Linked DNA regions of Homo sapiens: region 2 is linked to region 1. A link means that fine-mapping ties the variant in region 1 to the expression of a gene that starts in the linked region. Tissue or cell type: lung. Region 1 holds a variant in brackets; the other region holds the start of a gene. All regions are shown on one strand. Distances are from middle to middle.

Region 1 (15,636 bases):
AAATGTTCAATAAGACGGGGCATGGTGGCTCACGCCTGTAATCCCAACACTTTGGGAGGCCTAGGCCGGTGGATCACCTGGGGTCAGGTGTTCGAGACCAGCCTAGCCAACATGGTGAAACCCCATCTCTACTAAAAATACAAAAATTAGCCGGGCATGGTGGTGCACGCCTGTAATCCCAGCTACTCAGGAGGCTGAGGCAGGAGAATCACTTGAACCCAGGAAGCAGAGGTTGCAGTGAGCCGAGATCACGCCACTGCACTCCAGCCTGGGCAACAACAGCAAAACTCCATTTAAAAAAAAAAGTTTAATAAATATTACATGAAACTTGCAACAAAATGTATCTAGAAATTTGTCATTATCACTTATCCTTTCCTCTCACAACTGTGTGAGGCCCTGGATGAGGGCTTTGGGAGACACAAAGATAACAAACTCAGTCCCAGCTCTCAAGGAGTGTACAGTGTGATGCAATAGAAGATATATGCACAGATGATTATATTATGAGAAAGAAGGAAAAGCTATGGGGGAGGAAGAAGAGGAGGAGGGCAAGAAATTCAGGGTAGGGTGAGCTGTCACCCAAGTGGAATATGTGCGTCTGAGCTGGGACTACAGATGAGGAAGGATTTGAACACAGGAAAATAGGTGAGCTATTTAGAAAATTATGGCTTTGGATCTCTAGCTTATATAACAAACCGAATACCAAATCTCAACAGTATGATATTAAAAAGTACAACCCCCCAAATAGTAGAACATATAATTGAATATGTGCTTTTGAAAAGGTGAAGTATATTTTAAGCATAAGAGAAAAGAAATAAGATACAAAATAAAAGATTGCTTAAAAAATTTATTTTAGAGATGGGGGTCTCCTCCTGTCACCCAGGCTGGCTTGCAGTGGCATGATAATAGCTCACTGTAGCCTCGAACTCCTGGGTGCAAGCGATCCTCTGGCCTCAGCCTCCAGAGTAGTTAGGACTACAGACATGTGCCACTGTACTTGGCTAACTTTTAAATTTTTTGTGGAGTCTGGGGCGGGGTGTCTCTCTATGTTGCCCAGGTTGGTCTTGTATCCCTGGTCACAAGTGTTTCTCCTGCTTCCTTCCCCTCCCAAAGTTCTGGGATTAGGCATGAGCCACCACACTCAGCAGAAAAGATTGCTTTTGACTACAATAAGATTACCTATCATAAACACACTCCACAAAATAAAACAGCAAGGGAGAATGGGGAAATATTTATTACTTAATAATAGATAAAGGGTCAGTAACAATATACAGAGCTTGCGTAAAATAAATTAGAAAAACAATCTCAGCCAGCATGGTGGCTCATGCCTGTAATCCCACAACTTTGGGAAGCTGAAGTGGGCAGATCACTTGAGATCAGGAGTTTGAGACCAGCATGGCCAACATGGCGAAAACCCATCTCTACTAAAAATACAAAAATTAGCCGGGTGTGGTGGCAAATGCCTGTAATCCCAGCTACTCAGGAGGCTGAGGCAGGAGAACTGCTTGAACCTGGGAGGTGGAGGTTGCAGTGAGCCAAGATCGTGCCACTGTACTCCAGCTTGGGTGACAGAGTGAGACTCTGTCTCAAAAAAAAAAAAAAAAAAAACTTCAATAGCAAAAAAAGGGGGGAAGGCAATGAGTAATTCACAAAAAAGAAATATGGAAGGCCTAAAAATGTGAAAAAGTTCACATAAGTAGTAATCAAAGAAATGCTAATGAAAACAATGAGCAGGGCCAGGTGGCTCACGCCTATAATCCCAGCGTTTTGGGAGGACATGGTGAGTGGATTGCTTGAGCTCAGGAGTTTGAGACCAGCCCGGGCAACATGGCAAAACCTCATCTCTACAAAAAATATAAAAATTAGCCTGGCGTAGTGGTATGCTCCTGTGGTCTCAGCTATTTGAGAGGCTGAGGTGGGGAGATCGCTTGAGCCCGAGAGGTTGAGGTTGCAGTGAACCAAGATCGCACCACTGCACTCCAGCCTGGGCGACAGAATGAGACTCTGTTTCAAAAGACATATATAACAAAAAACTAAAACAAAACAATAAACAGATACTACTTCTCATTATTAATCTAGGAAGTTTCTTTTTTTAAAAAAATTATTATTTCCCAATGCTCAGCAAGAAAAATAGGAAGGAATGGATGTCTCTTCATTCAGAGCTGCCCTTAAAAAATAAAAACAAGGCCAGGCACGGTGGCTCACACCTGTAATCCCAGCACTTTGGGAGGCTGAGGCAGGTGGATCACGTGAGGCCATCAGTTTGAGACCAGCTTCGTCAACATGGTGAAATCCTGTCTCTATTAAGAATACAAAAATTAGCCAGATGTGGTGGCATGCGCCTGTAGTCCCAGATACTCGGGAGGCTGAAGCACGAGAATCATGAACCCAGGAGGCGGAGGTTGCAGTGAGCTGAGATCGCAACGCTGCACTCCAGCCTGGGCAACAGAGCAAGACTTGTCTCAAAAATTTAAAAAACAGCCAGGCATGGTGGCTCACGCCTGTAATCCCAGTGCTTTGGGAGGCCGAGGTGGGTGGATCACTTGAGGTCAGGAGTTTGAGACCAGCCTGGCCCACATGGTGAAACCCTGTCTCTACTTAAAAAAAAGCAAAAAAGATTAGCCGTGTGTGGTGGTGCGTGTCTGTAATCTTAGCTGCTGGGGAGGCTGACCCAGGAGAATCGCTTGAACCCAGAAGGTGGAGGTTGCAGTGAGCCCAGCTAGTGCCACTGCACTCCAGACTGGGCAACAGAGCAAGATTCCATCTCAAAATAAATAAGTGAATAAAAAGAACAAAAAACACTTTATTGAGGTACAATTTACATATAAAAAGCTACACATAGGCCAGGTGCGGTGGCTCATTCCTGTAATTGCAGCACTTCGGGAGGCCGAGGTTGGTGGATCACCTGAGGTCAGGAGTTTGAGACCAGCCTGGCCAACATGGTGAAACCCCATCTCTGCTAAATATACAAAAATTAGGCGGGTGTGGTGGTGGGAGCCTGTAATTCTAGCTACTTGGGAGACTGGGGCAGGAGAATCGTTTGAACCCGGGAGGTGGAGGTTGCAGTGAGCCGAGATTGCACCACTGCACTCCACTCTGGGCAACAGAGCGAGACTCCGTTTCAACAACAACAAAAAAGCTACACATTTTTAAAGTATACAACTGTATAGAAGTCTTCTGTGAGACGTAGAAAAAGAGGGAAAAAAATAAAGTACACAGCTCTGTGGGTTTAAGGATAAGTATATACCCATAAAACCATCACTACCATCAAGACCATAAATATATTCATCACCTCCTAAAGTTTTCTCCCAGCCCCTTTATTATTAATATTATTAATTTTTGTGTGTGTATGGGTAAGAACACTCAGTATAAGAGCTACCCTCTTGGACACATTTTAAGTGTACAATACAGTATTGTTAGCTATAGGCACTATGCTATATAATAGGTCTCCAGAACTTATTTATCTTGCATAACTGAAACTTTGTACCCTTTAATCATCATCTCCCCATTTTTCCCTTTCCCAAGTCTCTGGTAACCACAATTCTACTCTCTGCCCTGAGTTCGACTTTTTTAGGTTCCACATGTAAGTGAGATCATACAGTATCTTTCTGTTTCTGGTTTATGTCACTCAGCATAATGTTCTCCAGGTGCATCCTTTTAAAACTCATTGTTTCTTTAAATGTTTTATAAACTTTTAAAAATATACTTCCTTTTTTTTTTTTTTTTCCGGAGTTTTGCCCTTGTTGCTGGAGTGCAATGGTGTGATCTCAGCTCACTGCAACCTCCGCCTCCCGGGTTCAAGTGATTCTCCTGCCTCAGCCTCCCTAGTAGCTGGGATTACAGGCATGTGTCACCATGCCCGGCTTATTTTGTAATTTTAGTAGAGACGGGGTTTCTCCACATTGGTCAGGCTGGTCTCAAACTCCCGACCTCAGGTGATCCGCCCGCCTCAGCCTCCCAAAGTGCTGGGATTACAGGCGTGAGCCACCGCACCCGGCCACGATAGTAACTTCTTAGATTAATAAAGAGATTTGAATTGTCTTTAGAAAAACAATAGAGTTTTGTCTTACAAATTGTTTTTAGAAAATCTATAGAGTTTTGTTTTATAAATCTCTTGGATTCTCCTCTCCTACCTCCTACCCTTCAATACCAGGACCAAAGAGAAGCAGCAGATCCCAAGCACCATGCACTGGCCTATTAGCAGGGACTGGCAGTTGGCCATGTGTCAAGTCCAATCAGCCACCAGATTCTTGTGAGGTCTGCCAACTAAGGACGAATTTCACATCTTAAATGATTAAAAAAAAATCAAAAGAAAAATGACATGTGAAAATTATATAACATTAAAATTTTTAGCGTCCACAAATAAAGTTTTATTGAAACACAGCTATGTCCCTTTGTTTATGTGTAGTTTATGGCTGTTTTGCCGTAAAACAACAGAGTTGAGCCATTTTGGCAGAGACAGCATGGTCCATGGTCCACAAATCCTAAAAGATTTACTATCTGGCCCTTCACAGAAAAGGTTTGCTACCCCCTGGCCTAAAGTAGTAGTTTATATACCATCTTCAAGGGATTTCAGCCTTACAAAAACAAACTAAATTCCATTTAAGTGAACATTTTGATCCCTCCTTCCCTTTCCCCCTTAATCGTCATCTGCTCCAAAGAACTGAAAAATGATTTAGGCATGATTTGGATGGAAAGTTATGAAATAACAATATCTCATCTTTAAGGAATTTGGTGCTCATGATTTTTAAAAATGGACTTGTTAACTTTATGATTCAAAATAAAAGCAGAAGCCTTTTTTTGTCTTAGATTTCAGATGTCACATCTAAAAGTGAAATATCAGTAGAAAACAATAATAAGATTTCACTCTATTTTTCCTTTTCTTTTATATTTGATTTGGAGGTGTGAATATATTTGAACATATATCCTACAGTGTGTGATGATTTTGTGAAATTTGAATGTGCTGATGAAATATACAATCTTTCCAGTCACTTAGCTCTTATGTAGTGAAAAATTCACTTTAACATACAAAATTAATTAATTTGCTTATTGTTTATTCACATGCAGCAGTTCTTCTAATTAATAATTCCTATGCTCCAGGATATCCACAGGGCTGGTTCATACCATCATATGAGGACAGAAATTGGGTTGATCTTTTTCATCTCTGTGTAGCTGGTACTTGCATACCTAGCACATTGCCTGGCACAGACTATGTAGCAGAAATGCATGCTTAATGAATGAAAGTGGTTTGTTGATTGTTCTAAAGATTTCAAAGTTTTAAATTCCATTTGGTTTTGCATATATATAAAAATATACACCAAATCATTTTGGATTCTGAGAAGACTAAGTATACTGTTTTTCAATACTTCAGTTATTGTATTAATAACTTCAATTTTTACAGAAACTTATTAGTATTATAGAATTTCCTGAGAAGCTACCATGAGAAATCTCACTAAAATTATTATTACAATGGATAATGTATTATTTCACTCTTCTGAACAAGTTACAACAACATTGATTTTCAAAAAAATAAACATTTTCTGATTGGAAAAGTAATAAGTATTCATAAGAAATTCAGAAACTATAGGAATATGTAGGAAAAGACAATGATAATCTCACCCCTGGAGATAATCCCTATTAACAACTTGTTTGTTCAGATTTTTTTCTATGCATATGCCAACATGTAAAATAATTATTATTTTACTAAAATATAATCCTACTATACAAACTGTTTGGAGCTTGTTTTTGTTCTCTCATGTTTCTATGTCAAGATTTCAAAATACATTTTATAATTTTAGTGGCTTAATAGTTTCTATTACATAAATTTACCATTATTTATTCACACTTTCCTCTTGACAAATATGTGATTAAAATTACATTTTAATCCAAAGTGTTTTAAGTGTCAAGTAATCTAATGACAGCTATTTTTATAAAATGGTAAGAGTAAAAAAAAAAAATGCTAAGAGTGCTGTCAAGAGAAAAAAGAAAGAAAAGAATAAAACAAGCAAGTAAATTTTTGTTTAAGCACAAATGAACCCTAGTGCATCCTGAGAATTTCTAGCCAGTGAGCTGTGGAAAACTTGGCATGGCTGATGCAATGATAGCACAATTATATGTCAGTAATGCAAGTATATAAAATTGCAGATAAACAAATGCCTTTGCTTTAAATAAACTTTGATTTAACTACTTTAGAGACTGTTCTTGTTAGAGCTCCGTAGGGTTTTTAGGTTTAGAGAAGATGTACCTTGAGGCTTTGTTGGGGTCTAATGGACCACCAAGGAAACAGCCCACAGGTCTGCTGCTTCCCTTTCACTGTCTTCAGTTGCAGCAGTGCTGAGATCTTAACTCCTCGAACCTGACGAAAGAATTATGGCAAATGGCTGAATAGATCAAGATTTCATAATATGAATGGGCTTCCAGACAGAACCAGCATTAAGATTTATGTGATCTGGGATATGTCTTGTAATTCTACCAGTTTGATTAGAAAGGGATCTGGAGGGCTTGGGGAATGCCACCCCAATAGCTCCCTGTGTTCAACTAGGAAAGACAAGACGAATGTGGCTTGTCCAAGCCCCCAGTGCAAAGTAAGACCTTAACTCCGTAGTGGGGTCACTCCTAGCCAGGCTTCTGCTAATTTACCCCTTTCCAGACAAGTATAAAAAGCAGAAAGTACACTGGTGCTTGGTGACCTTATGAATGCCATTTGTTTTGTTGAATTTGGATTCCTTTACAGGAAATGTTCTAATATGTGCAAGTATTGCATCATTTAAAGTAGCAGATTAGTAGGACAAATGTTGCAGATGTAACTTAGACTAGTTCTCTAAAATAAGTCAGCATGTCACTAGATATGAATAAAATGTAAGTCCATGTTGCATATCAGTTGACCCACAGTGTAAGCAGGCAACAATGATGAGGCTGGAAAGAGACTAGTAATAAGAATAATAATAGTCAATGCTTACACAGCCCTATGTGCCAGGCCCTATTCTAAGCATTTTACATGAATCGCTTCATTTAAACTTTACAGGATTCTACATATTTAGCTACTGTTATTATTCTCTTTTCACAATTGAGAAAAACTGAAGCACAGATAAGTTGGTAAACTGGCACCGTGTCACATACATAATATGTGGCAGAGTGGTGATTCAAACCCAGACAGTCTACCTCTGGCACCTGCACTTTTAGCCACTAGTATGTCTGAGAAATTCAAAAATTTAAAGTCAGTCTCTAGCCAACCCAGGTGCAAAGAGCACCCCCAAATCCCTGATTGATGTCCTGAAATACCATTTCCCATGTCAAAGAGCCAGGCTCCTTGAAGAAATGGCTGAGTCAAGGTCTAGGGCAGGAAATGAACAAGGGATCCCTGAAGCACTTTGTCATATAGGTAGTGAGGAAGCTATTGAGGACTACAGGGTCATTCTCAAAAGGACAGCAGAACCAACTTAAAGAGGCTCCCAATGGCCAAAGGTGTCACAGTTTTGACATCAGTAGGGATAATACCAGCAATAGATTGAAACATCTCAAATATGTTTAAATCTATGAGTCCATAATGATGCTCAAAAAACTGGTCATGTTTAGAAGATGATTGGGAGGCAACTCATTATTGAACTGATAACCGGTAAATAAATTCTACCATTTTTTTCTGCCTTCCTTATATGAACTGTATGCCCCAGTAACTAAATAGTGCATGAGGTGAAGTTCTTGTTTAAAGAACTAATTCAGCCACTAAACAACAAAGGAGTAATAGAGTCCCCTTTCTATGGCCTCTAAAGAACTAATAGATCTAGGCCTTAAGGAGAAGTGATTGCTAACGTAACAAGAATACAGACAACCAAACAGTACGGACCTCCTGATGGATGAAGGAAGAATACACCCATTCATGAAGAAGTCTTGCCAAAAAGGCAAATTCAAATCTTACCAAGTTTCTTGTTCCAAATGCCAATTTAGAAAATAGAGAGGACAGAGGAACATGTTGCACTACATTGGGGGAATGAAGGCAGCAAAAAACTAGACTATGAGAAACTCTACGGAACAAATGACCTGATTTCGTCAATAAATAATTCGCAAGAAAGGGGGTTCAGGGGGAAACCTATAGATTAAAAGAGATTTAAAAGGCATATTGATGAATTGCAACATGTGGACCTTATTTGGATCTTAATTTTTTAAAATTAAAAGAAATTGCATTTATGAGAAAATTGGTCATTTGAACAATGACTCGATATTGATGTTAAGAGATTATTGTTATTTTTTTGGGGTGTGATAATATTATGGTTTTAAAAAACTCTTCTCTTTTACTGATAAGATATGTTCTCTGGCATTTGCTTCAAAATAATATGCAATGGAGTTGGAAGTAAAGATAAAAGAGAATTGACCCTGCGTTGATAATTATTGAAGTTGGGTGATGGGTATTTGGAGGTTTATTATTATTCTGTTACTACATAATGGTTTTAAATTATTATAATAAAATGTTTTTAAAAATTAAGTGCCTAAGTTTTAGGTTGCATAAAGTATACACTCTTTCTGATCAAAGAAAGATATTTTTACTTTAGACACTAGGATTATAAGTCCAAATGAATGAATAATCCTTAAATCTCCACCACAAGACCACAAACATTTACTAAACACCAGCTTTGTGCTGGGTACTGGAAATCCGGACATACTTCTGCCTCTAACAGGTGAAAAAGAAAATGGGACAACACTAGCCCTAATCTAAAATGACTGGAGATGTGATAAAGGGAGTACAAAGAAATACCGTAGCACAGTGCAGAGGTTAATTCCATCTAGGATAGTAACAGCTGGGAGATGGCCTTTGATAAAATTGTGTGAGGTAGAAAAAGAGATTGGGGGAAGGGCACAGAGGAGAAAGATGAGGCTGAAGGTTGATGAGGAGGGGCGGGAGTGCTGAAGGCTTCCATATGTCATTCTTGGCCCTTCAGACTCCACCTGCTTCCTGGGGGAATTTCACTTTTCCTGCTCTTGCCTATACACTGGTGATTCAAATGATTCAGAAATCC[T/G]TATCTCCAGCCCTGACCTCTATCCTGAGTTCCAGAACAGCCTGTTCAAGTGTCAGCTCTTCATTATGGATTTCACTTCAAAGTCAACATGTTCCAAAACTGAGCTCATTATCTTTCCCAGCAACCTATTCCGTCTCTCATATTCCCAATGTTTATGAAAGTGTTCAAGATAGAATCCTTAGAGGCCTGGGTGGCGTCTGCAGCTCTACCTCTGACAGTCTGCCTCTTCGAGGCCTCCTGAAGCTGCCCCTCCTCCTTCCCCCACTGCTGTCTCCTTGGTTCAAGCTTTGCCATCTCTGGGGCAATAGCAAGTGTCTTCCAACTGCTCTTTCTGCCTCCAGTTTCTTCTTGTTTTGATCTTGTTTTCTATTATTCTCTTAGAGTACCAGTGTTCCAAAGCTTTCTTTACAAGAAGTACCTGGGGTTTGATTACAAATGCAGAATTACCAGGCTTTCCCCCCAACCCCAGAAATTCTGATTCTGAGTCTGGACTGAGGCCAAGGAATTTTTTTTTTTTTTTTTTGAGACAGAATTTCACTCTGTCATCCAGGCTGGAGTGCAGTGGCACAATCAGGGCTCATTGCAGCCCTGACCTCCTGGGCTCAAGCAATCCTCCTTTATCACAATTTAGCTCTTACTCATCTTTTGCAAATACTTCCATATTAAATTGCTTAGTGGCCATGCCTTAGTTCGTGCTGTGCCCTCTGCCTAGAACTTCTCTTGGCCTCTTGTCTGCTTGGTGAACTTTTTTCTTTATTGAAATCATTGCTCAGATATCACTATCTTAGTATAATCTCCCCTAAGTACTGGGGCCACAGTGAGGGGCTTTGGCCTAGTTGCTCCCTTTAAAATTTGTACATGCCCAAATAAATACCTCGCATCTACCTAACAACCTTGCAATTATCCATTTACAATGACTGTCACTCCAACTACACCTCATTCCTTGAGTGTAGGGAAGCCTTTCTTCGTATTTTTTGTATTCCTGGGCCCAGAAAGCTGCCTGGCACAGGACAGAAGCTTAATAAACAGTAACTGCTGCAGCATGACAGAATGAGCAGAGGGTGTGGTGGAGTGCTAGCATGGCACCCAGATCTCAGGGCAGGAGCCAAAACTGGAAAGTAGCTTGCGTTCAGATTGAGAAAAAGACCCCAAAGCAACACTGAAAACCTTGGACCTTAACTTCCAACTAAGACAAAAGTTTTATTCCTAAGTGGGATTATTTAGCCAGAGAAAGGCTATGATTAGAGCTTTGATAACGTGGTGCAGGATGCTGAGAACAGTCTGGGAACTTAGACTTGAGACTGTGGAGATAATGCTGATGAGGAGTGGGTTCTGGGAGAGAACCTTGAGAGATATATTAGATGAGGCCTGATGAATGATAGATTCCAGGGATGGGAGAATGAGGAATCAAAAATCACTTGGAAGCTCAGCCAAGAGATCAAGGTCAGCATCAGCAGTGATAAGTCCTGGTGGTAGCATGCACTCTTTTTTTTTTTTTGAGGCAGAGTTTTGCTCTTGTTGCCCAGGCTGGAGTGCAATGGTGTGATATTGGCTCACAGCAACCTCCGCCTCCCGGGTTCAAGCGATTCTCCTGCCTCAGCCTCCTGAGTACCTGGGATTACAGGCATGCGCCACCACGCCCAGCTAATTTTGTATTTTTAGTAGAGACGGGGTTTCTCCATGTTGGTTAGGTTGGGCTTGAACTCCCGTCCTCAGGTAATCCACCCGCCTCGGCCTCCCAAAGTGCTAGGAACAGGCGTGAGCCACCATACCCGGCCCAGCATGCGCTCTTATATGGTGGGATGAAAATGGTACTTTACCTCTGTAGTCTCTCTCCCAATAACCCATAACCACTGTCCCATTAGGAGAAAAGCATCAGATAAATCCCAAGTGAGGGACATTCTACAAATTGCCTGATCAGTCCCTGCTCAAAACTGTCAAAGGTAGCAAAAACAGGGAAAGTCTAGGAAACTGTTAGAGCCAAAAGTAGCCTAAGAAAGCATGACTAAATGCAATGTGGTATCCTGGATGGGATCCTAACAGGAAAAGGGCATTTGAAATCTGCATAGAGCTTGGGCAACATAGTGAGATCCCCATCTCTACAAAAAAAATTTAAAAATTAGCCAGGTGTGGTGGCGAGTGCCTATAGTCCCAGCTATTTAGGGGAGTCAGGGGCAGGGAGATAGGGAGTGCCGAGGTGGGAGGACCACTTGACCCTGGGAGGTCAAGGCTACAGTGAGCCCTCATTAAGCCACTTATACTCCAGCCTGGGCAGCAAAGTAAGACAGGGTTTCACTGAAAGAAAAGAAAAAAATCTGAATAGTGTGGACTTCAATTAATAATGTATCAACATTGGTTGGTTCATCAATTATAACAAATGGACCTCACAAATATAAGATGTTAATTTTTAAAATTATTTTACAAAAATTAATTGAAGGTAGATGATGATGTGATTAACCTCATAATAATATTTGGGTTTTTTTGTCTGTGTTTTTTTTTTTGAGACAGGATCTCACTCTGTCGCCCAGACTAGAGTGCAGTGGCACGATCTCGGCTCACTGCAATTTCCGCCTGCCAGGTTCAAGCGATTCTCCTGCCTCAGCCTCCCAAGTAGCCAGGATTACAGGCACATGCCTCTACTGCCCAGCTGATTTTTGTATTTTAAGTACAGACGGGGTTTCACCATTTTGGCCAGGCTGATCTCGAACTCCTGAAGTCAGGTGATCCACCTGCCTCGGCCTTCCAAGTGCTGCGATTACAGGTGTGAGCCACCGCGCCCAGCCTTATTATGGTATTTGGATATTGCATGTTGTGTGGATGGAGTATGGCGATAATACGGGAAATACAAGAGGAGGACTTGTGTGGAGTAGGAGGTCACTCGGAAACCATGGTTATTTCATTGGTATTCAAAATCTGAAGTTTCTTATATGAATTTCTTGCTGTGCATCTCTTGCTTTCACTTTTGGGTATTAACACTCAAGCCTGTCTCAAGTCCACTTCATTCTTTGCTTGACCTAACTCAGGGGTAACTGTCAGTCTTACATAGACCTGATGTTAGCACCATGGTTCCTTGTGCCTCAAACGTTTTCCACCAGATTGTCTCCTAGTCAGCTCTTCCTTGTCATTCATCTCAAATGTCCCCTGCCCAGAAAGCCTCCTTTGATGACCTGATCTAAAGTAGCCCCTCCCCAGTCACTCCACATAGCATGGCTCTGTTGTGTTTTGTTCATGGCTCTTATCACTATCTAATATTTACTTGTCTGTTTACTTGTTTATGGTATGTGGCGTATTTTCCCACTCAAACTGAAGTCCCATGAAAGCAGAAGCTCACCTGATTGGTCACTGCTCTATACTTCACTGCGCAACAGTACCCAGAGTGCTAGTGATGCTCAGGAATTATCTGCTTAATTAATTCATGTAAAACACTCTCTTTGTCAGCTTGGCGACTGTCACAAAATAGCACAGCCTGGGTGACTTCAACAACAAACATGTATTTCCTACAGTTCTGGAGGCTGAAAAGCCCAAAATGCAGGTGCTGATGGATTCCTGGTGAGGGCTTTCTTCCTGGCTTGCAGACAGCTGCCTTCTCACTGTGTCCTCATGTGGTGGAGAGAGAGAGATCTCTCCTTAGAAGGCACTAATCCCATCATGGGGACTCTACTCTCAGGGCCTCATCTAAATCTAATTACCCCCCAAAGGCTCCACATCCTAATACCATCACACTGAGGGTGCAGCTTTAACATATGAATCTTGGGGGAACATGATTCAGTCCATAACAAACACCATTATGGCTCCATCCGCTCTGCCACCCAGATACATTAGTGTAGGATATTAGTGATCGTAAGAAAATTGTGACTCTTTCATGCTATTTCCATGTCCCTCTCATATTCCATTTATAAATAGAATAAAAGCAAGAAAATTCTCTTCCTTATAATTCCTTTCCCAATTCTATTTCCCTTAGAAAAAGCAAACCATTCAAGTAACAGAAGCATAGCTAAATGAAATGCATTATATCCTTGCCAGACCTTAACAGGGAGTTAGTTAAGGGGCCCTCAGACTGCCTTCCTCTGGCTGTAATCAGAGGAGGAAACAATTGAGACATTTACCCTTTTTCCTCTTACCAATTTCTCTTCTCCTTTTCTCCTTCATCTCTGACTCTTTCCTAATCCCCCCTGGCCTCGTGGAGGGAGAGGTGTTGGTACCCTTGTACTCTCCAGATCTCAGGAAAGATGCAGATAATGACTCAGGGCTTCCTCCGGAAGAAGCATCACCTCTAAGCTATGCTGCGGAATCACTTAGAGGTTATGAGTGCAAGAACTTCCCTCAGCATAATAAACACCTTTCTGGCGTAACAGGAGAATGAAGAATACTTTCTTTGGGCCCAGGGACATTATTGCTTAATTTATTCTATATATATATAAAATAAATTAAATATATATAGAATAAATTATTTAAGTATAAAATACACACATATGTTTATGTGTTTGTAAATAAAACAACATACAGGTATACATGCATTTAGCCATTTAGAGTTCAACAGCATTTCAGTTGTATTTTTTAGCATTTCAACCACAAAAACTGTTGAACTAGGCACTTACAGGTATTACTAAGAGCAAATACAAATTCTATATTAATGTGTATGACATTTCTTCATTAAAGAGCTGTCACTATAATTGGCTGGCCCACGAATGTGCATCATAAGCTATCAAAACACAGACATTTTCAAGCAGCTCTTAGAACAATGCAAGGCTCTTATCTTCTGATATTTTACACACGTACACACACACATAGACACACACACAATGGTTATTTTTATTAGTGGTCAGAACTCAGTAAGCAACACTGAATAGATAAGTGAAAAAGTGAATTTTTAAAATCAAACAAAAAAGTTTTACCCATTGGGAAAATGTCTGTGAAGAAGAAGAAAATGCGAAGGGGCAAAACTGGCTACTTTGAAAGAATAAAACTTCACCCCATGTGAATTTTCCTGGGGCCGCTTCTAGCTCTAGTGTGAGGCCTCTGCTTTCTCCAGGGGAGCCCCCAAACTGAAATTGGAAAAGGGCATCTACATATATATGTGGTCAGTTTTACCTGGCTTACAGGAAGGAGTTAAATGACAAAACTCTAATGAGTGAGGCTTTTACCAGGTGCCACAATTGGGTGTGGCCTCTGACAGAGGGCAAGCAGGAAACAAGTGAAACTCAGGTATACTCATTCCACAAGTTTGTGTTGAGCACTTTTTTCTGCCAGGTAGTGTTCTAGGAGCTGGAGATAAAAAATCTCTTCCTTCGGGCCGGGCACGGTGGCTCACGCCTGTAATCCCAGCACTTTAGGAGGCCGAGGTGGGCAGATCACCTGAGGTTGGGAGTTTGAGACCAGGCTGACAACATGGAGAAACCCTGTCTCTACTAAAAATACAAAATTAGCCAGGGGTGGTGGTGAATGCCTGTAATCCCAGCTACTAGGGAGGCTGAGGCAGGAGAATTGCTTGAACCCAGGAGGTGGAGGTTACGGTGAGCTGAGATCATGCCATTACACTCCAGCCTGGGCAACAAGAGGGAAACTCCAACTCGAAAAAAAAAAAAAGAAAAGAAAAAAAAATCTCTCCCTTCATTGAGCTTCCTTTTTTTTTTTTAAGTCATGGTCTCACTCTGTCACCCAGGCTGGAGTGCAGTGGTGCCATCTCAGCTCACTGCAGCCTCAAACTCCTGGACTCAAGCAATCTTCCCACCTCAACCTCCCAGGTAGCTGAGACTACAGGCATGTGCCACCAAGCCTGGCATGGTTTGGCTGTGTCCCCACCCAAATCTCAACTTGAATTGTGTCTCCCAGAATTCCCACATGTTGTGGGAGGGACCCAGGGGGAGGTAATTGAATCATGGGGGCCAGTCTTGCCTGTGCTGTTCTCGTGATAGTGAGTAAGTCTCACGAGAGCTGATGGATTTATCAGGGGTTTCCGCTTTTGCATCTTTTTTATTTTTCTCTTGCCGCTGCCATGTAAGAAATGCCTTTTACCTCCTGCCATGATTCTGAGGCCTCCCCAGCCATGTGGAACTGTAAGTCCAACTAAACCTCTTTTTCTTCCTAGTTTTGGGTATGTCTTTATCAGCAGCATGAAAACAGACTAATACACTGGCTAATTAAAAAAAGTTTTCTTTTTGGAGAGACAGTATCCTGCTATATTGCCCAGGCAGGTCCCAAACTCCTGGGCTCAAGCAATCCTCCTGCCTCGGCCTCCCACAGTACTGGGATTCTAGGTACAAGCTACTGCAGCTGGCCTGAGCTTACATTCTAATGAGGACAGGAAGATGAAAAATTTGTAATCAAGCAACAAGTAAGTGTTACAGGAAAATAAGATAAAGGGTAGAGAGTGAGCAGGGGCTAGAAGTTTAGGGATTGGGGCAGACAGGTGAAAATTTAAGGGAAAAGCATTCCAGGCAGAAAAATAGCATGTACGGAGGCTCTGAGGCAAGAAGCTTTATGTGTATGTGGGAAGAAAGGGCCCAGTGTGGATGACACCCTATGAATGGAGGAAGAAAGAGGTCAGAGTGGTAAACACGGCCCAATCACGTGGGGCCCCCTAGGCCACAGAGAGGAATTTGGATTGCAATGGGAAGCCATGAATGAT
Region 2 (15,636 bases), 49 kb after region 1:
ATCAAGTCTTAATTGCTTTTGTGACTTTCAAGGTCCTTTAGAACATGGCTTCACCTTAGCTATGTGACCTTATTCTGCTCTAATAGTAGCAATAATAATAATAATTACTATTGATTGAGTACCCAAGTGCCTGACTCTGTGCTAGGTGCTTTCCTTATACAATTTGCTAACACAAATCCTTACTTCAATTAGACCTGTGTCCTATGGTTCCCATATATACTTTGCTCTCTTCTCAAATGCCTATGCTCTATTTTCTGTACCTTCTATGCCTCCGAATCCTACTATTTTGAGAGTGAGGTCATTTCTCAGCTCCTCCAAAAAATCCGCATACATCATATCAGACCCACTGATTTCTTCCCTATTTGGCTTTCTTGCTAAGCTATGCAGATATTTAATACCACTGTATGGTTATTTAGTTGTTTCAGGTATGTAAATTCATCTCCAGTTAAATAGGAGAGCAATGTAAATGTATTGGCAGCTAAATTTATTGACATCCATGGATGGGCTTTGAAACATGCATGAACCATTGAAAAATTATGTTTTGTGTTTGTGCATTTTTTCTGGGGTCAGAAGTTTTCAAAGCATCCCAAAGAGGTCTATGAAGGGGGTTGGGTTACTTTCTGGATAACAAGCCTTATTTTGAGATCAAGCCTACTACCTAAACCTAGGAATTATATCTTATTGCATAACCTCTGATTCTCCATTGTAAAATTTCTGGCTTTGTTACATAGGCCTGAGTTTTAAAATTCCGACCTGTGTTTTTTACTCTGCTTTAATAAACAGAGTGGGCATCCTGAGTTGTGATGCAGAACACATAATCACTATATTGGGAACTTATTTCAACAATAATTTCTAAATTAAATACTTTTTAAATAGGCAATACAGTTACATAATTTGAAGGTCAAAACTACAGAAAGAGGATATCCAGAGAAGTTTCACTTCTACCTGACTTTTTTTTTTTTGAAATGGGGTCTTGCTCTGTCACCCAGTTTGGGTGACACACTCCATCACGCCCAGCTAATTTTTGTATTTTTTGTAGAAATCAGGTTCGCCATGTTGCCCAAGCTGGTCCCGAACTCCTGACCTCAAGTGATTTGCCCACCTTCGCCTCTCAAAGTGTGGAATTACAGGTACGAGCCACCACAGCCGGCTCACCTTTTCATGTAAAGGAAGCACTTTATGACTTCTCTTTGGCATATCCAGATTGCCAGCGTCCTTACCCTCATACTCTGGGGCCATTATTACGTAAAATAAGGGTTACCTGAATGCAGCACTGTGATACCATGACAGCCGATCTGATCCCAGGGATGGCTGCTAAGTGACTATCACGAGGGGAGGGCAGGGAGCGTAGATAGTGTGATCACTGGACAAAGGGATGATTCACCTCCCTTGAGGGACAGAAGGGGACTGCTTGAGATTTCATCATGCTACTCAGAACAGAACACAATTTAAAACTTATGAATTGTTTATTTTTGGAGTTTTCATTTTAATATTTTTGAACTGCAGCTGACTGAGGGTAACTAAGACCACGGAAAGTGAAAGCATGGATTAAGTGGAACTACTGTGTGTGTACAGATATATATATATATATACACACACACACACACACAAACACATATATGTATATATAGATACATAAATCTATATCATCTACATATATGTATATACATGTATACATCTATATATACACATATTTATAGATATACATTCTTATGTAAACTAGACTATGCATTCTTTGACATTAGGAAATGTGTTTTATCTATTATTTATCACCAGAGCCTAGATGGTCAGTAGGTTTTTGTTTTTGTTTTTTTTGTTTTTTTTTTTGAGACGGAGTCTCGCTCTGTTGCCCAGGCTGGAGTGCAGTGGCGCGATCTCTGCTCACTGCAAGCGCTGCCTCCCAGGTTCACGCCATTCTCCTGCCTCAGCCTCCCGAGTAGCTGGGACTACAGGCGCCCGCCACCACGCCTGGCTAATTTTTTTTTGTATTTTTAGTAGAGACGGGGTTTCACCATGTTAGCCAGGATCATCCTGATCTCCTGACCTCGTGATCCGCCTGCCTTGGCCTCCCAAAGTGCTGGGATTACAGGCGTGAGCCACCGCGCCCGGCCAAGGTCAGTTGGTTTTAGTTGAATCAATGAACAATGTTTAAAGACAGTGACCACTTGGTTTCTATCTATCTCCATTGAAGATTAAATAACAGAACTTACACTTCAACCTTTAAGTATTAAAAATAATAAGTTATATATTAGAATGAGTTGTTAAATTTTGTGGACTCTTTTCTGCCTTCTTTCTTCATATGAGGACACATTTTTATTTGTCTAAGACAGCATAGGATGTCTTCTGCTTGGTTTTGTACTAGTAGATCAAAATTAACTTTCTCGTATCTGAAATAATTTTTTTGCTAGATCAAAATAAATTTCTCCAGGGAAACAATGCATATTCAAATAGCCTAATTTCTAATAATGCAGGGGACCGAAAACAGTTAAAGGAGAAAGATTTGGTTCAGTTTTAATTATGACTTTCACTTGCTTATTATGGGATTTCTTTTTGGGACTTAACATTTTTATTTTAGATCCAACACTAACTGTCAATGCTTAACTAACATGACTGAAGAAGTTGATCTTACATTTATATTTCTATTCTTATTACAGAATGGATTTAATATGTTAAGATGTTGAACAGAACCATGAACTGCATTTCACAAAATGGTACATTTCATAAAATCTAAAATCCCAGCAAAATGATAGGGACAACAACTTAGCACGCTGTTAATTTTTCACTTAAGGGTGCCAAAATGATATTTCAGTCTTTTTTACATAGAAAGGTCAGATGTCATTCAGTGGCGCTCCTGAACACAGGCAAGTCATTTTCAGAGGTGAAAAAGCTGTGGTTGACTGCTCTTGAAACAGGTTTCTCTACAATCCACCTCTCATCTTTCTTCTCTTACCGAACCCACTCTGGTGTTCACGTCCTGCTATATGTAGGCAAGAGTATACCCATCCTACGCCTTTTAACTCTTTTGAGGGGCATACATAATTCAAGGACAATTAACTTGTTCTACAAATACCAGTTTAGGTGTCAATTTAGCATTCTGCAAATAAGGTATAATACTATAGAAATGGAAGGGGTGATTTCCCCAAGTAATAGGTCTCTTACTGAAAACATGCAAGCACGTTTGTGTCTGGCGTAGTGCTGTATTCTTCAAAGTCTTGAGCAGGGCCTGGTGCAGACTGTATACCCAACAAATATTTCTCTTATTAAAAAGTATAAAGTGAAAGCACAAAAGGGATGGTTAAGCAAGATAAGAAAGATGAGAGGTGGATTACAGACACACCTGTTTCAAGAGCAGTCAACCACAGCTTTTTCACCTACTGAAAATGACTGGCCTGTGTTCAAGAGCACCTCTGAATTACATTCAATCTTTCTATTTAAAAGAGACTGAAACATCATTTTGGTACTCTTAAGAATTTTTTTATTTAAATTTTTTATTTGTATAAATTTATGGGTACAAGTGTAATTTTTTTGCATGTATTGATTGCATAGTGGTCACCCTTTTAGTGTATCCATCACCCTAATAATGTACATTGTACCAATAAGGAATTTCTCATCATCCCTTCTCCTTCTCTCCAGTCTTCTGAGTCTCCACTATCATTCCAAACTCTATGTCCATATGTACACTTTATTTAGCTCTTGCTTATAAGTGAGACCATGATAATGGAAGAGAGATTGGTTAAGCTGACCTCCCAAAGTTCTCCCAACCCTAAGATTCTATGATTCTAGCAGGCTGGATCTCTTGTAGTGTTCTCAGAGAGAACAGCTACTAACCAGTGGTATCTGAAAACTTTAATCTTCTACTTCTGATGAGGTATTTTCTTTTCTTTGTTTCTTTTTTTTTTTGTTTTTTTTTGAGATGGAGTTTCGCTCTTTTCACCCAGGCTGTAGTGCAATGGCATGATCTTGGCTCACTGCAACCCCTGCCTCTCAGGTCCAAGCAATTCTCCTGCCTCAGCCTCCCAAGTAGCTGGGGTTACAGGTGTGCACCACCATGCCCTGCTAATTTGGTATTTTTAGTAGAGATGGGGTTTCACCATGTTGGCCAGGCTGGTCTCAAACTCCTGACCTCAAGAGATCTACCCGCCTCAGCCACCCAAAGTGCGGGGATTATAGGCATGAGTCACGGTGCCCGTCTGATAAGCTATTTTCAAATATAAATTATTGAATAATTATTTTAAAACTATTATTAGTATCTAGAATGTGCATTTTTCTTTTAACTGGTTCAAATGTCCACCAGAATTTTGTTAGTGATAGTGATATTTACATCTAGTTACAACAATGTATAACTAGCTTTACTTTTAATTGTGGTAGAGCAGCAACAGCCTCCTTTCTTTTTGCTTTGTTGATCATTCTATGAAAGCTGGGCAAACTCTTTACTCATCTATCTATCAAATACTTATTTTTTTAGAAGTCACTGAGATTAATAAAATTTATTTTTATTCTGCACCAGATAGTGCTTATATTATTGCATCAATATTAACTGCTATTTCCTATTAAAATTGTAAATCTACTATTTATAATTATTCTTTTGTGAAACTTTGATTAAAGATACTCCTTTGAGACTATTTTAGTAGTAGTAGGTACAGGGATATATGAATGCAGAAATATCATATAAACAACTTGCAAATAACGTAAGTCCTGTTTATATTAGACATACATAAAGGCCCTGTGAAACTTATCATTAAGGAATTTCAGAACAGTCATAGTGGGAAAAGCATGCGGGGAAGACTGCTGATAGCTAAACTGTGACAATAGAAAAGGTCGTATCATAAAATACTGTTAGTATATTTTTGTATGTTTATGCAATTGGTTGAAAATCAGGCAAATTTTTTATAATTTTTGATAAATATTTGACAAAGACTTCAAATATGTCTCTTGTAGTCACCATTGTAGAAATTTGTTTTGTTTAAATTCATTTGGCATTAACTTCCCGCCCCAAAATTCTACATCAATACATCTCTCTTCCTACTCTTCCCAACCCCTCCAAAAAATAACACCAAACTCAAAGCAAGTCACAAACGTTTTGCACAAATAAAGCCAGTTCTCCGTGGAATTAATGTGATAGGTCTTGAATATATTGTTGATAATTAACCCAATCAAGTAACATTGCCAGGAAATCTTTATTCTTTTCCTTTTTTAAAGGTTCATAAACTTTATTTCTTAGAGCAGTTTTAGGTTTACAGAAAAGTTGAACAGGAAGTACAGAGTTCCCATACACTCTCACTCCTGCCCCCTAACCACAGTTTCCTCTATTATTATTAACATAACGCATTGAGGTGGTACATTTGTTACAACTGATGAACTGATATTGATATATCATTAACTAAAGTCAATAGTCTACATTAGGGTTCACTCTTTCTGTTGTATAGTCCTGTGGGTTTTGTCAAATGCATAATGTTATGTATCCACCATTACAGGATAATACAGAACAGTTTCACTGCCCCCAAAATCTTCTGTGTTCCACCTATTTATCCCTCCCTCCAACTCTTACTTTTCTTTTTTAATACCCAAATTAAGCCACAGTAATATAAATTAGTTGGAGCTAAGAATTTGCCAGTGATTCCCCATGGCAATCAAACTTTCTTAATTATTAATCTAGACTAGCACTGTCCAAAAGAAATATAATGTGAGCCATTATGTATTTAAAAAACTCTAGAAGCTGCTTTAAAAGGAACAAGTAAAATTAATTTAATAATATTATACTTATCCCAATATATCCAAAATATCAATTTCAACATTCAGTCAACAGGAAAGCTGAGATATTTTACATTTCGGAGGTACTAATTCTTGAAATCCAGTGCGCATTTTACACTTACAGCACATCTAATTTCAGCCTAGCTACATACATTCCGAGTGTTCAATCAGTAGCCACAAGTAGCCAGTACCTGTCAGGTACAGCACAGATTTAGACTTTGAGCAACTTGAAAGCAGGTTATCCTCTTCTCTCCAGGGCCTCCAGAGTAGGCATGCAGTGAATATTTTTGAAAGGTAAATCAGAAAGATAAAAGGATCCTGATTCTTACAAAGATGTTCTGCAACTACTCTCTTTAAACTCTCCAGCCTCATAAAAAGTGGAATGGGGATCATGCTTATTCCTGCATATCAAACCAATGACTATGGGGCTTCCTGACTCCCAGAAAGCCTGAATCATCCGAAATGTTGACTCATGAACCTAAGGTGACTGAAATGTAACGTGAACCAAATTAGCTTTCCAAGGCATCTTTGTATTTCCACTTTCCTGTCTCCCCGCTGCCTCTCTCTTTGGGTGACTCACTCTCTTACCATGTAAGAGTCCAGCAGGCAAGGCCCCAAACTCTCTTTGGAAGAAGAGCAGACTTTCAAATGGTCGGCCCCAGATCCCTAGTTAATTCAGCACAGCTGTTTTCCTCCCAATTTCGGGGGCTGCGGTTTAGACTGAGTGAGCCTAACTGTCAAAAAACAATTTTTTTCTTATTTTAGGGTGGTAGTAGTAGTGATGTAGTTTGGAACTTTGAGTGAACAAATAATCTTTTATTTCAAAAATCTTTAAAAATCCTTAGGGCCCACTTCCCAGTCCCGCTAATACCTTTCTCCAGTCGGGTTTCTTCCTTTCCCGGGAGGAAAGTTTCCACTCTCAGTTCCCCCAGGATAACGCCCTTCCGGTGGCGCGCCAGAAACCGCGCCGACCCCTCCCAGCCAGCAGCCCGCCCCCTTTCCCAGTGCTCTAACGACATACGGACGCCAGCTGCGGGCAAGGCCAAGACCCCACCCCAACTCACGGTTACCCAAAGTGGGGGTGGAGCTCCCAGCTCTCAGCCCCGCCCATTGAACGCAATCCCAGCCGGTAAGAGAGAGGAAGTGCCGTAGTCCCCACCCACTTTCATCTCCTTCCCTTTCTGTTGGCCCGGCTGGTCGCCTATCTTCTCGATCCTGTAGCCGATTGGCTCTCTCCCTCCCGCGCCAGTCCCTGCCCTCCCCTGGGGAGGGTGAGTCACGCCAAACTGGGCGGAGAGTCCGCTGGCCTCACTCCTAGCTCATCTGGGCGGCGGCGGCAAGTGGGGACAGGGCGGGTGGCGCATCACCGGCGCGGAGGCAGGAGGAGCAGTCTCATTGTTCCGGGAGCCGTCACCACAGTAGGTCCCTCGGCTCAGTCGGCCCAGCCCCTCTCAGTCCTCCCCAACCCCCACAACCGCCCGCGGCTCTGAGACGCGGCCCCGGCGGCGGCGGCAGCAGCTGCAGCATCATCTCCACCCTCCAGCCATGGAAGACCTGGACCAGTCTCCTCTGGTCTCGTCCTCGGACAGCCCACCCCGGCCGCAGCCCGCGTTCAAGTACCAGTTCGTGAGGGAGCCCGAGGACGAGGAGGAAGAAGAGGAGGAGGAAGAGGAGGACGAGGACGAAGACCTGGAGGAGCTGGAGGTGCTGGAGAGGAAGCCCGCCGCCGGGCTGTCCGCGGCCCCAGTGCCCACCGCCCCTGCCGCCGGCGCGCCCCTGATGGACTTCGGAAATGACTTCGTGCCGCCGGCGCCCCGGGGACCCCTGCCGGCCGCTCCCCCCGTCGCCCCGGAGCGGCAGCCGTCTTGGGACCCGAGCCCGGTGTCGTCGACCGTGCCCGCGCCATCCCCGCTGTCTGCTGCCGCAGTCTCGCCCTCCAAGCTCCCTGAGGACGACGAGCCTCCGGCCCGGCCTCCCCCTCCTCCCCCGGCCAGCGTGAGCCCCCAGGCAGAGCCCGTGTGGACCCCGCCAGCCCCGGCTCCCGCCGCGCCCCCCTCCACCCCGGCCGCGCCCAAGCGCAGGGGCTCCTCGGGCTCAGTGGGTGAGTGCCGCGACCTCTCGCTTCGCGCCGCCCCTCGCGCCCCTCCCTCTTTTGTGTGCAGCCCCAGATGCTTTGGGCTGGTCCCTCCTCTCCGCCCCGAGGGCGCTTTGTCTGCGGACTTCGGGGCGATGGCGCCCCGTCTGGTTGGAAGCGCGGGGAGAAGGGTGGGGCGGCCCTTGGAGCCCGGGTTTGTTCTTATTGTCCGTCTTGGTTTCGGGGAACACGTGCACCGCTCCCGGCTCCCACTTTCACCCTGTGTGATGCCCAGCGTACGGATTCTCGGAAGTTAGGCACCCACCCGTAGTAGGAGCCGGGTATATACCCGAGAGCCAGGGTTGTGGATTTATCGGGTTGGTTGGGCTTCGAGGTGAGGAAGGAAAGGCCTTGGCACCCAGATATTTTTAGGAGGTGCTTTTGTCTACCCGTCTGGGTTGCTCCTTTGGAAAAGGTGCAGTTTTGCTGCGGGTCTGTTGGCCTGCATTCTGCCCCGGGCTCCCTCCTCACCTCCTGGCTGGCGTGGGTGGCCCCTTTGCGCTTCCCCTCCCCCTCCTCCTGTGCTCGTGGGGAGCTGGCCGAGTGGAAAACGTCCACATTGACCCAACCGCAGTGAAGGGAGAGCGCCTCCAGTGGTGTGGTGCGTGGAGAAATGGGAAGGAGAGAGTTCTGGTAAAGTCCTGCCACCGCCCAGCTCCCCGGGGTGTGATGTGGACTGCTCCCCACCAGCTAAACCGAGCCAGGGAAAGGGGATCTAGGCATTGTGTTCGAGGGGGCGTAGTTCTGCCGGGGTTTCAGCTGCAGGGTCGGAGGAATTGCTGTTAGTGTGGACTTGGCCCAGCCTCTTAGTGCATCATAATTGAATCTTACAGAAAAAAATAAAAGGCAAAATGGTTGACATTCCTAAAGAAGGGAAAACCTGTGGATTCCTTGCCAGGAATTGGCTAATTGAACTCGTGGCAGATTTACCATGAGACACAGAGAAATGTTTTGAGACAGACATTTTCATATATATTGGTTAGAAATACTGTTTTTCAGAAGGATATGTTTTAGGTTACAGAATCAAAATACGGTCACGTGCCTCATAACGACGTTTAGGTCAAGGACAGACCGCATTTGCAACGGTGGCTCCATAAGGTTGTAATGGAGCTGAAAAATTCCTGCCGCCTAGCGACGTCTTGATCTTGACCCTGTGTAGGCCTAGGGTAATGCGTTTGTATCTTAGTTTTTAACAAAAGTTAAAAAAAAAATAGAAAAAAGCTTATAGAATAAGAATATAAAATTTCTTTTCTATAGCTTTAAAATGTGTTTGTGTTTTAAGTTAAACGTTATTACAAAAGAGCCAAAAAGTTTATAAAATAGAAAAGATACAGTAAGCTAAGGTTGATTTATTATTGAAAAAATATATCTAAAGATAAATTTAGTGTAGCCTAACCGTAGAGTGTCTGTAAGTTGTACAGTAGTACATGGTAATGTCCTAGGCCTTCACATTCACTCACTACTCACGTCCACAGCAGCTTCCAGGCTGGCAAGCTCTGTTCATGGCCAGTGCCCTGCACACGTGTGCCATCTTTTAATCCTTTGTACAGTGTTATTTTAGGTATGTTTAGATAAACACTACACAAATACCATTGTGTTACAGTTGCCTACAGTAACATCCTGTATAGGTTAGTAGCCTAGGAGCAATTGATTATACCATATAGCCTACATATAGGTATGTAGTAGGCTCTACCATCTAGGTTTCTGTAAGTATACTGTGAGGTTTGCACAACGACAGAATTGCCTAACAATACATTTCTCAGATCCTGTTCCCCCTGTTCAGCGAGGCATGACTATGTATGGTCTGTAAAATAGTTTTCAAGTTCTTTCATTCACCTAAGTTCCTGATTGTATGTTATTATTAGTCACGTTGTTTTATTGCCGTTTTCATCTTGGGAAATTATTTTGGAAGCGAAAAAAATCACGTTTGTTAGAGATTGAGAATGCATAATATTAGATACATTCATAAGTACTTGCTACTTCGGGGACAGAAAGTGTCCCACTAGCAGTAGGACCTTTATGTATAAAAGGTCAAGAATCAAGTAGTGTAACTGCCTGCTTGGAAATCTTCATAGCCTTGTAGGATGTTAGAGGTGATTCATTTCTTAAAAGAAAATCAGTCTGATTTTTTTTTTTCTCAATTCACTTCTCCATAATGGGGGAAAATAAGCCAATTGCGATGCTTTTTAGTAATATTTTGATGTTGACGGACTCCTCACCCCCATACTACTCAAAACACTAATTGCCATATTAAAGGTCTTAGAAGATGAGGAGTAACTCAATCTTTTCCTTTTTCTTTATGAAAAAGACATACTTGAGGGAAACTGAGGTAAGAGAAAAATATGAAATATATTTTTAAACAGGAATTTTTTTTTTTTTTTTTTGAGATAGTCTCCCCCTTGTCACCAGGCTGGAGTGCAATGACGCAATCTTGGCTCACTGCAACCTCCGCCTCCCAGGTTCAAGTGATTCTCCTGCCTCAGCCTCCCGAGTAGCTGGGATTACAGGCGCCTGCCACCACGCCTGGCTAATTTTTGTATTTTTAGTAGAGACGGGATTTTACCATGTTGGCCAGGCTGGTGGTCTTGAACTCCTGACCTCCAGTGATCCACCCACCTTGGCCTCCCAAAGTGTTGGGATTACAGGCATGAGCCACTGCGCCTGGCCACAGGAAGTTTAATGATTGACAAAAGCATACTAATCTTGTATTGGTATGGGAACAAAGAAAATAGTTCTGTCTTTGAACATTAGGGATTCAGGGGGTGACAGCACTCTCTTGGAATCTTGTGTGTTGGAATGCTGAGGTTGGAAGGCAATGGGGAAAGAATATTGCCTGTTCTACAGAGTTCCCTAATTCCATATTGATGATACCTATTGGGAAACTTTAGTTTTTTTAGTAAGTGTAAGAACATTGTGATTATGGTTGTGGATAGTTAACCATTTTCAATGTGTCTGGATTTCTTAATGCATTCAAGAGTTTGTTCATTAATTCAACCCATTATTGATTACCTACCAAGAGACAGGATCTATTCTAAGCTTTGAGGGTATAGCAATAAGCAAGACACATGCTCCCCCTTGGGAGAGTACAGATAATAAGCACATAAATAAAGAACCCAGAATAGTGGTGTTATGAGGAAAATAAACAGGATAATGGCATAGAGAATGATGGGGATTTATGGGGGCTTTTTTAGGTTAGGTGACACTAAGACAGGCTTAGAAGGTGAGATTTGAGCTGCAGAGAGAAAACATTTCCAAGCAACTTCAGGGCAAAACCCTGAGGCAGGAATGAGCTCTTTGTGTCTGAGAATCTAGTGTAAGACTAGTGAGAAAAACTAGTGGGAGAGTGAAGAGGTGGCCTTACCCACCCAGATCATTGGGGGTCTCTAACAGGCAATGGTAAAAATGTTTAGCTTTTTAAAAAAATAAAAATATGCTTATTAAATAATTATATTGTGATTTTGGAACTAAAATAAGTTTGGAAGATTCAGGGCTACTGAGAGGACTGATGTGAGACAAAGGTGAGAAATGTGCAGAGCAGGGTTAGAAGCATAGACTAGCCTGCCTGGAAGAGAGGGTTTCTAGATCACTGACACTTGTCTGTTTAACATTGCTGTTTACGTTATTTATGAGTAAGCCCTGATTTTCATCTGTTAATAAGTTGTAATTTTACTGTTTGCTGTTGTGCCCAGAGCATCTCCATCGCAATGCAGTAACTGAAGTGAGACTAAAACCTCTCACTTGAGGGCCATTTTTCATGGGAAAATACTTGGCTTAGTGGTTGGTTAAGTTAGGCTTTGAGGATATGCGCAGAAAACTCTGGCTAGAAATCGATTTGAGAGCAGTGCAAACATAATTAAGGGTGACTTCGAACTGGTCTCTGGACATGTTCTAAACCAAGGTTAATTAAGACCGAAAATATGTAGATCTGGATTCTGAAAGATACTGAATGCCAAATTAAGGAATTTGGATTTTATCATTCCACTTTAATCCATGCTCTGCTATCCAGTTGCCCTTGCTTTTGGTAATTTATATTATGAAACCAAAATTGTTTTTTTTAATTGTTGTTTCTAAAGTTATTGTTTTTCACCCCTTCTCGAATTAGAGCTTTTGGCTTTGGGAAGACAGCCATTGAAGGTTATTTGAACTGAGGCAAGGCACCGTGAAAGCAGTATTAGAAAATTGGTGACAATATTCAAGATAGGTGGGAAGGAAAAGCAGATGAATTATTTAGAAAGCTATTACAGTAGTTCTGAGAAAGATGAGTAGGGCCTGAACTATTTCATTATTTGTTCATTCAGTGAAAATGGAATAGAAGGGAGGAATATAAGAGTATAAGAAGCACGCTTTCTTTAATTGGCTGTGAATCTGTTTTTATAGTTAGTTTACGAAGAGGCTGTATGAAAGACGAATTGATAGGACTTGGAAACCATGAATGTAAAGACAAAGAAAAGAATATTAGTGCTTATTAAATCAGTTTCAGAGACTGCCAAAATTTAATTGCCATGAAAATTTGTATAAAATTGAATATTGCTCATAAATACAGATTATGGGTTGGGGCTTAAAAATTACTAGTTTTTACTATCATGAAGCCATTTATTATATGATCATTTTTATTGGCGTAGTAGCATGTATTAGAAATTTTAAGATTTTGAGTGACATATGGTTTAAATATTAGGTATCAGTTCTTAATATAAAGTCCAAGTTCCCAGGAAGTGGATGCTTCTAAACACAAGAAAGTCATGCCCTGTCCATTCCCCACTTTCATTTTTGTGATTCTGAATAATTTCTGGTTAAGCCATTTCTTATTTTTAAAAGTTGGGAATAAGTAGTATACTCCTCATGGATATGGTGAATTATGTTTCAGATTGGTTCCTGGGCAACTGAGTGTCAAATTTGTGGTCTTTTTTTTTTTTTTTTTTTTTTTTTAGTGATTTGCAAACTCTCTCAAATCCTTTTTAAAATGAAGTGATGGGTATATGTGGAACCACTGATAAATAACTGCATGGAATAGTGTTTAGAAAACATGCTATTTTAGTGCTATATTATTGTAAACTTAAAGGATTTGCCATGTTATAAAAACATTTCTGAAAAGGAGCATGTTACCTATTGTCCATTAATTGGCTTTGTTTTATGTGTAGTTATTTTCTTTTTAAAAATCTAAAAACCAAAAAACAATGGTCTCACTTTTGTCCAGGCTGGTCTCAAACTTGGGGCCTGAAGCAATCCTCCTGCCTGGACCTCCCAAAGTGCTGGGATTACAGGCATGAGCCACCATGCCTGGCAAGTTTTTTTGTTTGTTTGTTTGTTTGTTTGTTTCTTTTGAGACAGAGTCTTACTCTGTCGCTCAGGCTGGAGTGCAGTGGCATGATTATGGCTCACTATACCCTTGACCTCCTGGGCTTAAGCAGTCCTCCCACTTCAGCCCCCCAGGTAGCTGAGACTACAGGTGCACACCACCATGCTGGCTATTTTTAAAATTTTTTAAAAAAACTTTTATATTTATGTATTTATATTTTGGAGACAGGGTCTTGCTCTTTCACCCAGGCTAAAGTATAGTGGTGCAGTCTTGGCTCACTGCAGCCTCATCTTCTGGGCTCAAGTGATCCTGCCACCTCAGCCTCCCAACTAGCTGGGACCACAGGCACGTACCACCACGCCCGGCTAATTTTTGTGTTTTTCGTGCAGATAGGGTTTCGCCATGTTGCCCAGGCTGGGCTCAAATTCCTGAGGTCAAGCAGTCTTCTCGAAGTGCTGGGTTTACAGGCGTGAGCCACCACACCCAGCCTAAATATATTTTTATTTTTATTTTTATTTTATTTTATTTTTGAGGTGGAGTCTTGCTCTGTAGCCCAGGCTGGAGTGCAGTGGCGCAATCTTGGCTCACTGCAACCTCCACCTCCTAGGTTCCAGCAATTCTCCTGCCTCAGCCTCCCGAGTAGCTGGGACCACAGGCATGTGCCACCACACCTGGCTAATTTTTGTATTCTTAGTAGAGACGGGGTTTCACCATGTTGGCCAGGCTGGTCTTGAACTCCTGACCTCAGGTGACCCACCTGCCTCGGTGTCCCACAATTCTGGGATTACAGGTGTGAGCCACTGCTCCCAGCCTTATTTTTATTTTTTTAAAGATGGGGTCTTACTATGTTGGCCAGGTTGGTCTTGAACTCCTGGGCTCAAGCAGTTCTCCCACCTCGACTTCTGAAAGTGTTGAAATTACAGGTGTGAGCCACTGTGCCCCGCCATTTATTTTCATAATATACCTTCAAGCAACTTATTAGAATAACTTGATTCAAAGCCTCAATTTAATGGTTCCTTTTTAAGGTACTTTGCTAGCCCAGGATAAAAGTATAAACTGAATGGCTATTTCTTGATTCTTCCCTGGAACCCTTAAATAAATAGAAGTAAATGTTGCAGATATACTATACTTATGGTACATTCTTTGAGACTTTTTGTTCCTGTTTCTAAAGGGATCAGGTTCTTCTGAGGATGACAGCACTAGGGATGGGAACTGTAATGGTAAAACCATAGTTCTCAGTAGTGTTTGAATGAATGTGACCTTTGTGGATAGCTAGTGCAGGACATAGGTATGCAAAATGATGAGACCCAGCTTTACTGATGCTAAGATTTTCTCAGACTAATGCCATCATCATCCTTTTTAACCCCAAAGGAGGAGTTGATAATTTCATATTTAAGCTATTGATATTTATGTTTCTTGGAATGATGATCATTGATTTTTAAGTTGCTTTCATCACGTGTTTCCATAATATTCTGTTCTTACCTCTTCATAGTATATATCATTCTATATAAGGTAATGGTATGGTTACTGATTTCTTTCCTCCACCAGACAGTGTACTCCTTGAGGAAAGGTGCTGTGACCTTTTTCTTTGAGGAAAAGGACTGTATGCATTGTGTCTGCATTGCAGTGCCTTAGATGTGATAGGCACTCAGTTTGTTGAATGAGAAAGATGCTGATCTTCATATTCTGTATAGTTCTAGAATTACTATAATATCTTCTCTCAATAAAAATCCCAAATCTTACGAAAGCATTTATTTATTTATGTATACAAGGTAACAATTCCAAACAGTACTACAAGAATACACAGAAAAGTAACTCTTTCTACCTGTTACCCAGATTTCCACAAATTGTCTTCTGTAGATCCACCCTCTGTTAGTAGTTTCTTGAGTATCTGTTTAGAGATAATCTGTGGATAAATATTTATTTATACATGTATATCCTTTTCACTTTATTTTCCACAAAAATAGATGCAGAGGACTCTGGGGATGTACCATATTTTATTTAATCAGTCCCTTATTGATGGTTATTTAGGTTGATACTTAGTTTTTTCTCTTACAAATACTATTTCTGTGAACACTCTTGTATACACTTCTTTGGGAATACATGCCATTATATATGTTGTAGGATAAATCTGTGCAAGTAGAATTACTGCTTCAAAGGATATTTGCATTTAAAATGTTGGTAGCTAATGCCAAAGTGTCATTCAAAGAATGGTTCCAACCTTTATTCCCACCAACCTGTTAAGGTACCTTTTCCCTTATATCTTTACCAACACAGTATATTAGTGAACTAATACATTGTTTAGCAAATTGTTCTTTTAAATTTGAGTCATTTTTCATAGGCTTAGGTGTCAAATTTTTTCTGATCACAGCTTTTGCCTATTCTTTTGGGTTTTTGGTCTCATGTATGTAGATTCACTTAATCTGCATTGTAAGGAAACTAGCCTTTTGTCATA

Alleles and levels. Alleles are on the strand shown, and positions count from the first base shown. SD is a standard deviation of normalised expression in the study named.
For the expression in lung of the gene that starts at base 7,146 in region 2, allele T in region 1 goes with a higher level than allele G (small effect, 0.31 SD a copy in GTEx).

What was found.
Region 2: RTN4 starts here. The variant in region 1 is fine-mapped to the expression of RTN4 in lung (GTEx, PIP 0.94).

What each region holds. Positions count from the first base shown.
Region 1 is chr2:55,091,197-55,106,832 of GRCh38, reverse strand. It overlaps a transcript of RTN4 not described here. Among named protein-coding and RNA genes, the nearest start is that of RTN4, 49 kb to the right of the region's middle. The variant T/G (reference allele first, on the strand shown) is at 9,009.
Region 2 is chr2:55,041,961-55,057,596 of GRCh38, reverse strand. RTN4 (reticulon 4) reads left to right here and starts at 7,146. Exons shown (of 9, transcript NM_020532.5): 1 at 7,146-7,852. The coding sequence starts at 7,297. RefSeq lists enhancers at 7,316-7,365, 7,328-8,140 and silencers at 7,506-7,565, 7,706-7,825.